2 linked regions of the Homo sapiens genome follow. The protein of the gene in region 1 interacts with the protein of each later gene in a pairwise test. Each region holds a gene or a part of one and is shown on either strand. Other genes may lie near its edges.

Region 1 (7,036 bases):
GTAGTCCCAGCTACTTAGTAGGCTGGGGTAGGAGGATCACTTTAGCCCAAGAGGCAGAGAGGTGAGCCAAGGTCGTGCCACTGTCCTCCAACCTGGCAACAGAGGGAGAGACTGTCTCAAAAAAAAAAAACAGAAAAGAAAACAGAAACATTATTAATTTTTTCATGTGCCTAAACTAGGTAAAAAGTAACACTTGGAATTTTTTTTGTTTTTTTTTTTTTTTGGAGATAGAGTCTTGCTCTGTCACCCAGGCTGGAGTACAGTGGCATGAGCTCAGCTCCCAGCAACCTCCGCCTCCCAGGCTTAAGCAATTCTCGTGCCTCAGCCTCCCGAGTAGCTGGGATTACAGGCGCGTGCCACTATGCCCAGCTAATTTTTTTGTATTTTTAGTAGAGACAGGGTTTCTCCATGTTGACCAGGCTGGTCTCGAACTCCTGACCTCAGGTGATCTGCCCATTTCAGCCTCCCAAAGTGCTGAGATTACAGGCATGAGCCACTGTGCCTGGCCGGAAATTTTTTATGCCATTAAAAAACTGCCTCTTCAGTTTAAATATCAATGAATTTAATTTAAATATCAGGGCTGGGTGCAGTGGTTCACGCCTGTAATCCCAGCACTTTGGGAGGCCCAGCTGGGAGGATCACTTGAGGTCAGGAGTTCCAGACCAGTCTGGCCAACATGGTGGAAACCTCATCTCTACTAAAAATACGTGGCAGCAGCAGGTGTGGTGGCAGGTGTGGAAGGCTGAGGCTGGAGAATCGCTTGAACCTGGGAGGCGGAGGTTGCGGTGAGCCAGGGTTGTGCCACTGCACTCCAGCCTGGACAACAGAGCGAGACCCTGTCTCTAAATAAATAAATAAATAAATAAATAAATAACTTAAATATCAGGAAAATCATGTGTTAGACCTAATAACAAATGACAATAATCAACTGAATTTTCAACTAGTTATTTTGGTATTGTAAGCTACAGCATTAGGAAAAGCAGAGACTTTGAGATCTCAACTCAATTTGACTTGTAAAAAGTAATATAATGTTATTTATCCAGCCCTGCTAATATCATTACCTTTTTCTTTTTCTTTTCTTTTTTTTTTGAGACAGAGTCTTACTCTGTCGCCCAGGCTGGAGTGCAGTGGCGCGATCTCAGCTCACTACAAACTCTGCCTCCCAGGTTCATGCCATTCTCCTGCGTCACGTCCCAAGTAGCTGGGACTACAGGTGCCTGCCACCACGCCCGGCTAATTTTTTATATTTTTAGTAGAGACGGGGTTTCACCGTGTTAGCCAGCATGGTCTCGATCTCCTGATCTCATGATCCGCCCACCTCGGCCTCCCAAAGTGCTGGGATTACAGGCGTCAGCGCAGCGCCCGGCCTAACATTATCTTTTAGCTTGATTAAAAACCCATTTCCACCCGGCTAAAACGGTGAAACCCCGTCTCTACTAAAAATACAAAAAATTAGCCGGGCGTAGTGGCGGGCGCCTGTAGTCCCAGCTACTTGGGAGGCTGAGGCAGGAGAATGGCGTGAACCCGGGAGGCGGAGCTTGCAGTGAGCCGAGATCCCGCCACTGCACTCCAGCCTGGGCGACAGAACGACACTCCGTCTCAAAAAAAAAAAAAAAAAAAAAAAAAAACCAAACCCATTTCCAGGCCAGGGGTGGTGGCTCACGCCTGTAATTCCAGCACTTTGGGAGGCTGGGGGGGGGGGGGTGGGGGGGTGGGGGGGGGCGCGAGTCACGAGGTCAGGAGTTCGAGACCAGCCTGGCTAACATGGTGAAACCCCGTCTCTACTGAAAATACAGAAAAATTAGGTGGGCAGGCGCCTGTAATCCCAGCTACTGAGGAGGCTGAGGCAGGACAATCACTTGAACCCAGGAGGCAGAGGTTGCAGTGAGCTGAGATCACGCCACTGCACTCCAGCCCAGACGACAGTGCGAGACTCTGTCTCAAAAAAGCAAACCAAAACAAACCCATTTCTATATTAGTTAGGGTAATGATAGTTGCTATAACAAATCCCAAGATCTCAGTAGCTTAACACAATAAAAGTTCATTCGTTTCTCAATTTAAAAAACATTGCATGGTACCCTTCTAATATAAGAATTCAGAAGACTCAGGGTTCACAAATCTAAACGTACTAGTTAAATTGTCAATTTAAAGATTCTAATGATAAGATACTGGCTCCACAGAGTAACATATAAATATAATTGGCCTCTCCATTACCACCACCACTATTCTTCCTGGTACTCACCCCTACATCCAATAGTCAGCAAATTCTATCAGGTTCACTACTTTCACCACCAATACTTCACCCTAAATGAAGCCTGGTCACAGATGGCAGTGCAGAATCAGCCAAATAATAAGACAAAGAACAAGTTGGAAACATCCTGATGTACTCTGAGTGGCCCAGAAACAGAAATATCCCACTTCAAATAAACAGCTGCTTAACTAGCTGGCCGAGAAAACCTCTGCTACCCACTTAACAGACATTGCTAAAAACCAAGGTGAGGAAAGCTCACTTGCTGGTATAACAGGTTAAAATAAGTCCTAACCTGGACTTTTTTGTTGTTTCTAAAAGGTTTATGTATATGCCATTATTGAAAGTGTCTGACCCTTTAATGTTTAACCAAATATCAGAAACAGATCAAATATCATACATCCTTAACACATTTAAAATATCTCCTGGAGTCTGATAAATGGGTTTAAAGCCAACAATACTTTTATATTTCAAGAAAGTCACCTAGTTAGTATCAAATGATTAAATTTTTTATGTCAAGGATTAAATGGGTCTTTCAATTATGTATGGCTTAAAAATCATGTTCCTAGTATATCCAACTTCAGCATAATCAAATTTCATATGCTAATTTAAAAATATTAATTAAAAATTTTAAAATATCTATCATCTTAATAGTTCAGTAAAGGCAATCTTCAACTTACAGGTTAGTTCAATGAACTATAATCTAGTCCTTTAAAAGTAGTAACTATTAAGTACTTACATATAGTTCAGTCACAAATATCAAATAGCTTTAAAGAGCTGGGTCCCAGGAAGTGCACAAAATATCATTTCTGTGGGAAATGAATTCTGTAAATTTGTACTAGAACACATCTCCTTCCCATTTCCCACTAAAAGCATCCAATCTAAAAACCCTGAAAATTCAGAAACACTATAAATAGAGGCACAGTCACCCAAACTGCCTCTACCCCTTATCTCCTTGCAGTAACAGTAAGCAAAACTGTACCTACAGAATATTACAGAGTAATGTTCTCTGGAACTCCAAAGAGATATTCCCAGCTTAACTGCTTCCACTCATGGGTAGAGATATATGATATTCACACACCAAGTGATGTACACCTCTGATGTTCAATAGAGCCTGTCAAAGTATATGACTATGGTTCACACCAACTGGTAGACTGTGAAGACAGGACAAAGATATGTGCGCTGCAGTCTTAAGATATTATGCATCTAATCTTTCCTATAATTTATCAGAATAAAGAGATATAACCACACATTAAGCTAAGTGTTAGCACCATAGTAAGGCTGTTATCCATTTATCTACAGCCTTTAGACAACAAACCAGCCAAACATATAAATCTCTTTTTATAGCTCAACTGGTTCTTTTTAGTTTACAAGTATATAACTGAGATGGCTGAGTCCCTAAATGCCTTTCTTCATCTTATTATACATAACCATCACATATGATGTGTACAGTAAGTCCAACCTGGGTTCAAATTCTAATTCCACTCCTTAGAGTCTGACCTAAGCAAAAAAAAAAATCACCAAGCCTCGGTTTCTTCATCTATAAAGTAGAGCTAATTATAAACCTTACATCATAAGAAGTCTAGGAGGAATATATGTGATAAAGCATATCAAATGCTTATTATAATGCCTGGTACACATGGCAAACACTTAGTAAATGGCAAAGTCAGAGCAGTTAAATAAAAGCATTCTAGACAATCAAAGCAGAATTTATTATGTTAAAAAAAGAAACTTAAGCTAAAAGTTCTACAAAAATTCTATCTGGAAAGTATTGAGAAATGATTAAACATTACCTTCATAATAATGTTATTATATTTTCCAAAAAGACATAAGGCTACAAATACATTAAGCAATAAAATTTTAGTGAGCAGTCATTCAAAACTTTTAGTCTGTTTTTCATCAACTTTCACATTCGATAGTACCCTTTGTTCAAAAGAGGTTTTAAAATCTTGAACTATATTCCCAGGCGACATGAAACCCTCTTAAATGTATTAAAATCTTATAAGACAATAGTTTTATAAAACAAAAATTATTTTGTTTATGGATTATAGCCCCTTTAAATCAACAATTCCAAAATGGTTAAACAAGTAGACTTTTTAAAATGACCTAAGTAAGGTAATAGGAAATTACAAAACTAAGAGAGATAAAATTTCAAATGATATAAGCTATTTCTACCTGTAATGAAAGTAAGACTTCTGATTGCAGGCAATTTGGTTATGGAGTGTTATAATCTCACAACAGAACCTATATATACAATTGGTTCTATTCTTGCTTCTTTAATTCTAATAGAATCTGAGAGTAAAGGAACAGTTTGAAAAAACAGCACAAACCTGCTTAACTGATCAGGAGAGGTAGATAAGAAAATGACTGCTTTGGTTTAACAGTATGAACAGCAAAGACAGAGGAAATCTGCCCAGAACTGAGGGACACAATCAGAGGTATTTTGACCCCAAGACTGAAAAATGGAGAGCCAAGCCATGCAAGCCCCAAAAAGGTTTGCCTTCAAAACTGAATTCAGAGTGAGTCAGGTCCATCTTAGTGACTGCTTGTTCATGAGAACAGATATAGTAAGAGAATGAGAAAGGTACCTAAGTGGACTTGGATATTCATATTTTTAAAATTTTTCTCTAGGATGATCCATCTATTATCAACCGTTTTGGTATTTACATCTATAATAACTAAGTCTAAACTCAGATTAAAGTCTGAAACTCAAGTAAAAGTGGTCTTCTTGCCAAGTATCTTCACCACCAAACAGCAATTACCTAAATTTTAGAATTATTTCACAGTGCAGCCCAATTTCAGGATCTGAAAAACTAGTCATGAAGTGATGTCAAATGTCATATTACAACTCACAATTATCTATATATTCTGTAATATAAACTAGTGCACTTCCCATTTCCTAAACCAAGTCTTAAACCAATTATCAATATCATTCAAAGTTAACTCCAAAACAGCTCAACTCCACATCCGAGGTTTTTAATTATGACTTTGTGAACATTTTCACAAATATGGCAACTGCCTAAATTCCTAACCAGAAAACACCTTTCCCTTCACAGATCATTAAGGATCTATAATCTTTTTACCTAATACTGTATTACTAAGTAATATACTAATATAAAACAAAGTCATCAGTGCAAACATTAACTCCAAAAGAATAGTTAAGGCCGGGAGTGGTGGCTCATGCCTGTAATCCCAACACTTCGGGAGGCCGAGGTGGGTGGATTACCTGAGGTCAGGACTTTGATACCAGCCTGACCAACATGGTAAAACCCCATCTCTACTAAAAATACAAAATTAGCCGGGCGTGGTGTCACATGCCTGTAATCCCAGCGACTTGGGAGGCTGAGGCAGGAGAATTGCTTGAAGGCGGGAGGCAGAGGTTGCAGTGAGCCGAGATAGCGCCATTGCACTCCAGCCTGGGAAACAAAAGCGAAACTCCGTCTCAAAAAAAAAAAAGAACGGTATAAAAAAGGAAGCTATCAGAGTCTGATTCTTGTCTGCTTAAAACTGTAATCAACTCTTTAAGAAAACTTAAATGTCCCCGTGAATCTTTTCTTGAAACAGCTACACATTCCCCTAACCCCTACTCCAGAGATGATCATTCCCTTCCTGTGTTCCTATGCAACACACAGAACATCCCTCCTGTATAATACTAGTCACATACTATTACGCTTATTTACTTACATGTCACTGGATCTGAGCTTCACAAAAGCAAAGGACTCTTACCATCATCTTCACACTTAGCATAAATATTCAAATGCTAGGCCAATAAAATCCTAGTTATATAAATAAATGAAGACCCAAAAAAATGTGCTTTGAGGGGGAGGGGTACATTTGTTCTAAGTTTGCTAGGGGAGGGAGAAGTGAATTTAATATACCCATATGGAGACTGTGATTAGTCAAATCAATATCTGACCATGAAGCTAGGATCCCAAGATTTTACAACTTCATAGAGTTCAGCCAGAATTCCATTAACAGCATATAGACATATGACCTATCTTTGTAGGATCCTAAAAGGACAATCTCAAATTTCCATTCTTTCCCCTCTAGCAGCACCAATTTATTTTCCTAGAAGCCACTGCCCACAGGAACAAAGTCCCTCCACCTACTCCTGACCCATCAGATCCAATTAGAGCAATGTTGATGAGAGCCATCAACTTTTTACTTACTGGGGCACTCCTGTTCCTACAAAGCACTGGAGCCCTACTCTGCTAAGTCCACACACTGATAATGAAAGTAGGCATATGTGCAAGGAAGATGCACAAGAAATTATCTCTGTTAAACATAACAGCACTTGAAAACTAAAACACAGAATCAATGTTTAGTCATTGCAGGCGGTCAGAAAAACCTAAACTTCCTTTATAATATTACTTAATAGCAAACTGTGCTGAATTCTAAATAATGACCTTACAAAGTAAACTTTTAGGACTCCAACTCCTATGCTGAGGACTACCTATGGCTTTGCGATACCATTAAACTGCTGCTCAACAACTGTGATGCTTCAAATCAATTCTCACGTGATAAGAATGTAAACTTACTAAATCTAGTAACTATACAAAGTTTTCAGTGAAATTCTATGACGATAAACACACATACCCCCACCGCTCCAGAGCTCCACCCACTCAACCTAGAAATGAAAGTCAGACATTACAATTCACTTAAAGAAAACTTGTCAAAGGAGAAAAAAAGGTTTGCCATGTTAATCATTAATAGGCTGCATAGTATTTGGTTTAGCCTCCAAAAGTGTCTCCAGTGTGGCTACAGGAGGCAGGCAGTTTGGGAAGGAGT
Region 2 (5,989 bases), on another chromosome or scaffold:
TTGGAGGGGTTCAAAATTTCAGTGGAGGAAGTTAACTGTAGATATGCTAAAAATAGCAAGAGAACTACATATGGAGCCTGATGATGTGAGTGAATTACTGCAATCTCACGGTAAAACTTGAACAGACAAGGTTTTGCCTTTTATGGATGAGCAAAGAAAGTGGTTTCTTGAGATGGCATATACACCTGGTGAAGGTGCTATGAACATTGTTGAAATTACAATGAAGGACTTAGGATATTTTATAAACTTAGTTGATAAAGCAGCAGCAGGGTTTGAAAGGATTGCTTCCAATTTTGGAGGAAGTTCCATTGTGGGTAAAAGGCTATCAAATAGCTTACATGCTACAGAGAAATCTTTCATGAATGAAGAGTTGATCAATGCAGCAAACTTTATTGTTGTCTTATTTTTAAAAATTGCCATAGCCACCCCAACCTTCCGCAACCATGACCCAGATCAGTCAGCAGCCATCAACATCAAGGCAAGACCCTCCACCAACAAAAAATTATGACTTGTTGAAGGCTCAAATAATCATTAGCTTTTTTCAGCAATAAATAATTCTTTAATTAAGATAGGTATATTGGGTGTTTTTTTTTTTTAGCCATAATGCTACTGCACACTTAATAGACTACAGGATGGTGTAAATGTAACTTTTATATGCAGGGGAAAACCAAAAAACTTCATGTGACTCACTTTATTGAGATATTCACTTTATTGCAGTGGTCTGAAACTGAACCCACAATAACTACAAGGTATGCTTGTAAATACCTTATTTTTAACAAAAAGTGAAAATGATTTCCCTGTTATTTACTAACAAATAGACCAGACATTTGCATCAGACAGTGAGCATAAACTTCTCTGATCACCTCTCAAGAGACATCTCCCATTTCTCTTTTGACTCTCCTCAAGATTTCCTGTAAGACCAAACTTTATCTTCCATATGTCTCACAGGTCAGTGTTCATAATAACCATCAGTTATACAACAGCAATTTAATGAATCTCAGAGTGAAGACAAATTGCCGGTTTCTGAGTAGAGGGCCAGGATAGGTCACCTGGATACTCATTGAAACTAATGATTCTCAACTTCTCCTGCCTTCAACTCACCAGAGGAATATTAGACATCCACTTGTTAGTGGTTCTCTATGGGGGATAGTAGAGGAAAGCCAAATTTGGGCATTAATAGAACAAATCTTATGTTAAATCCTCGTATTATTTTTCTTGAGATAATATGACTACAGCTCAGATATAACCATATCCAATTTTTAACTACTTCAAACCAAGTAATTCCATATTATTCTCACTACTCCTATCTAATTGTGGTATCAATTGGCTCTAAAAATATTAAACACATATATATTACTTGAGACCTCTAGACTATAAAATACTTCAAAAGTCTAGTCCTTAAAACGTAGGGCAAAAAATACCTCAATTTTGGCCGGGCGCGGTGGCTCACGCCTGTAAACCCAGCACTTTGGGAGGCCGAGGCAGGTGGATCAGGAGGTCAGGAGTTTGAGACCATCCTGGCCAACACAGTGAAACCCCGTCTCTACTACAGATACAAAAAATTAGCCAGGCATGGTGGCAGGTGCCTGTAATCCCAGCTATTCAGGAGGCTGAGGCAGGAGAATCACTTGATCCCAGGAGATGGAGGTTGCAGTGAACCGAGATCATGCTGTTGCACTCCATCCTGGGCGACAGGGCAAGACTCCGTCTCAAAAAAAAAAAAACAAAAAAACAACCCAGCAACACACATAATTGCCTAATTCTTTTCAATTAGCAATATTTTTATGTTGCAAAACATATAGGATAAGACATACTTACTGCTTATCTGGTCCTCCACAGAAAATAATTCAGCAATATAAATACTAGATCAATATTTAACCATCAAGGAAAAGATATACTGCTACATCAGCTGATTTTTTTTCTCTTTGAATTTAATGTATTTACATCAAAAAATTAGGTAGTCATTTTACATTTAAGGAATAAAAACCTTAAAAAAAACAATACAAAGAGTGAAAGGATTTTAACCAAGTTTACATTTCTTTTTGCTATAATTTTTAACAACAATTCGTCTCATCATAACTTAATGCAATGTGCAAATGCAGCACCCATTACAATCATTAAACTAAATTTAAGGAAGTACATTGTTAATAGTGACCCTCGGAGGAAATGGATTTCTCTTCTATTAAAAACTCTATGGTATATAAGCATTACATAATAATGCTACTTAACCACCTTTTGTCTCAAGAATTATCACCAAAGTTTTCTGGAAATAAGTCCACATAAGAATTAAATATTTAAAAGGTGAAATGTTCCTTATTTTAACTTTAGCAAGATCTTTTCTTTTTCATTAAGAAACACTTTAATAATTTTAAAGCAAAAGCTGTTAGAGTCTAGATAGCTAAAACTGTACTCCTGAGTTCAAGCTTACAGATAAATCTTTTGTTAAGTAGTTCTCAATAAAATATCTTCCCTCCCCATACCCCTACCCGAAATCTTATATTGTTCTTTACAAAACTTTGGTCAAGAGTAGAAATATATCCAGGCAGATGTATATGCCATACAATAGCAAGAACAGTAAAGCCCAACTAATGATTTTGAGTTTTAAAAATAGAAGGCAATTAAAATGTACTCAAAGTTACATTAAGAAAAGCTTTCACGGGGGTAATATTGAAACAGTCACAAAGGTTAAGAAAATACTGATATCAAAGTACAAATGACTACAATGTTAAAATAGACAAAAACTGCTATACAAGAGCCTCTTTGAAAATTAAAAATAAAGAACACAACACATGAGTCAGGATGATTTTCCTGTTCTACTCATGAATTTTAGTCTTTATAAGGTTGGTTATGTTGACATCTAGAAGAGTTTCTTATCACATCTGATGGTCTCATTCCAACTTCGTAGGGTGGGTCTTCCCCAAGGAACCTCTGATCCTGGTCGCATCTTGGTCATTGTACGATTTCAAAGTAGTGCAATATCGCCATGATGTGCTGGGGCATGAAGACGTATCCTGTGTATAGTGCCATCCCCACAATGGAAACCAGCATGGAATCTGAGTTGTAGTTAAGGAAACTTATTATTATTAATTTATTCAAAACTAAATCTCCACATGTCTTCAACAACTCTTTTATGCTGAAGTACCCATTCACTTAGTGCTTTCTCATTTATATCAAGCACTGATAAAAAAAACAACAAGAATGATAATACTAGCCACTAACAACCATGCCTGGCACCACTCTAAGCTGGTTTTGTTTTATTTTGTTTTTAGCTCATTCTATCTTTACTATCACCATATAAAGTAAGTACTGTTATTCTCCCTGTGTAGTTGAAAATATCAGACTGCTTCAAATGTTTTTGTTTGTTTGTTTCTCTTTTTTTTTTTTTTTTTTTTTTGAGACAGAGTTTTGCTCTTGTTACCCAAGGCTGGAGTGTAATGGCACGATCTCGGCTCACTGCAACCTCTGCCTTCTGGGTTCAAGTGATTCTCCTGTCTTAGCCTCCTGAGTAGCTGGGATTACAGGTGCCCGCCATGACACCCAGCTAATTTTTGTATTTTTAGTAGAGACAGGGTTTCACCATGTTGGCCAGGCTGGTCTCGAACTCCTGACCTCAGGAGATCCACCCATCTCAGCCTCCCAAAGTGCTGGGATTACAGGCGTGAGCCACTGCGCCCGGCAGGACTGCTTAAAATGAAGCATAGAATGTGATACTGTTCTACCTAAGAAATAAATATACAGGAATAAAATTCTATTTAATTACTATAAAAGATCTACCAACTTAACTAATAAGAATGTATGATCAAAGAATTTTAGAATTAGACTAGAATGTGGCTAAAAGTATTTTTAGAGTCAGACAAAGCTAAAATCAATCATACACTAGCTTAGGGATGACAGCAACTGCTACTGCTATTATCACTATTAAACATTATTATCACTATTGCTACTATTTGCAACAACTTCAAATAAAGGTAATCTTGATAACCTAAACAATAACCTTTCTGTACCATGTTCCTTTCTTTTTATTACAAAAGGAACTGAAACTGTATATATGGAAGTCAACAAGAGGCCTCTCTCTGGGGCCACACAAAATACTGCTAGCAAAAATTATGTCAAATCTAAGGGCTTTTGGCTTTGCACAGTTACATAGGATGCTAAGAGGAATAACTGTTTTTGAACTGGAGTCATGCTTTATTAATTCATTCATATTCTCATTCTTCTCTCTCTCTCCTCTTTCACTTGCCTTTCCCCTTTCTCAACTCTACATACCTTTCAGCTATACATACTATTATTTTTAAAATAACTTACATTCTTTTATGAGAAGATAGGGTTTAAATAAACAATGTGCTTACTATCAACTAATATTTGTATAACAGGTTAGTTGACAAATCTCTTCCACAATTACATTATCTTACTTAACCCTTATAGCTTTCCTATGAAATGTTTATTATGTTCATCACTAATCAGAAGCTGAGAAAACTGAGTAGCTTGTTCAGGGCCATACAGGAAGCTGTCTTTAGAGCCAGAGGTCAAACCAAGACTGCCTGACTCAAGCCATAAACTCATTCTCTTCATCCAGCAAACAAGAGCAGAAAGTCTTTCACAATCTTTTTTTTACAATTTACTTTTTAACCGCCCTTAATCCAGTTATTCCTTAAACTGCCGCCTTCTATTTACTAATTTCTTTAAAAAAAAAAAAAGAGAGAAAGAAAAATATATACATTTGCTGCTTCTATATCATTGGCATATATTTGTTCATCACCAACACACCATCTGATTCTTACTCCTCCAGACTGTAGGCATTGTTCTAAGATCACTGGTGGTCTCCACCAAATCCAAAGGCTGTTTGAATTGACACTGTTTTAGTCCTTCTTCTTCAAAACCCTTTCCATTTATGCCTGTAGTGCCAGCTACTCTGGAGGCTGATGTGAGCCGGAAGGGCACCACTGCACTCCAGCCTGAGCAACAGAGCCAGACCCTGTCTCAAAAAACAAACAGAAAACAAAACAAAACAATCCTTTCCACTCTTTAAAACTCTACTCTGGGCTCAGGTATTTTCTAAGGCCCTCTTTTAATCTCTCTTACCATTTCCCTGTTTTTCACTGGCTCTTTCCTTTATGATGGATGATAGATAAGAGTGAACTTTGTGCTTTCCTTGCAAACATCCACTCTCCTCCTAGTATAGCAGCCATGCCCTTTTGGTTAGACTAACCCATCTTCATGGATAACCCCTGACTGGTCTTAACCAATTAGAGGGATCTCTTTTGCTTGGTAACAATGCCCTACATCAAAACTGATTAATCAGCTCAAAGCTTAGGACTTCAGCCAGGAATTCAGGAACATAGATGCTCTCTCCTACAATATGCAGCTTGCTGATGGAATCTTGCAATCACTGGAGTCACTTTACCTCCATGAGGAAAGCAAGATTCAGAACAAAGCTGACTCAAGAAGGTGGCAGGACAAAAATAATCACAGAAAAATGGAGTCAGAATCCTCATCAAAAAACCCTGAATCCCACCCTACCACTGGATTTTTACATACTAAACTAATAAATCCCCTTTACTTTTTTTGAGTCAAGGTCTCACTCTGTTGTCCAGGCTAGACTGCAGTTACACAATCATAGTTCACCACAGCCTCGACCTCCCAGGCTCAGGCAATCCTCCCACCACAGCCTTCCAAGTAGCTGGGACAACAAACACGCACTACCACGCCCAGCTGATTTCTTTATTATTTTTGTAGAGATGGGGTCTCCCTATGTTGCTCAGGCTGGTCTTGAACTCCTGGGGACAAGCAATCCTCCCACCTCAGCCCCCCAAAGTGCTGAGATTACAGGTGTGAGCCACCACGCCGAGCTGGCCAATCCCCTTTACTCTTAAAGTAGCTTGCTCAATTTTGTTACTTGCGGCTGAAAACGTTCCAGATGATAAAATGGAATTCCCATCGTTTTGTCTTGGGCCCCATATTCCCTCATAACTTAAACAACTACAGGTTG

What was found.
Region 2: the proteins of HERPUD2 (region 1) and SPTSSA interact in binary tests that used the Homo sapiens proteins (3 or more experiments, as listed by UniProt).

The regions. Positions count from the first base shown.
Region 1 is NC_000007.14:35,685,118-35,692,153, forward strand, and holds part of HERPUD2 (homocysteine-responsive endoplasmic reticulum-resident ubiquitin-like domain member 2 protein), read right to left. Parts: intron 1-7,036. UniProt on the Homo sapiens protein: Could be involved in the unfolded protein response (UPR) pathway.
Region 2 is NC_000014.9:34,432,252-34,438,240, forward strand, and holds the end of SPTSSA (serine palmitoyltransferase small subunit A), read right to left. Parts: intron 3,054-5,989; coding exon 2,950-3,053; 3' UTR 537-2,949; downstream 1-536. UniProt on the Homo sapiens protein: Component of the serine palmitoyltransferase multisubunit enzyme (SPT) that catalyzes the initial and rate-limiting step in sphingolipid biosynthesis by condensing L-serine and activated acyl-CoA (most commonly palmitoyl-CoA) to form long-chain bases.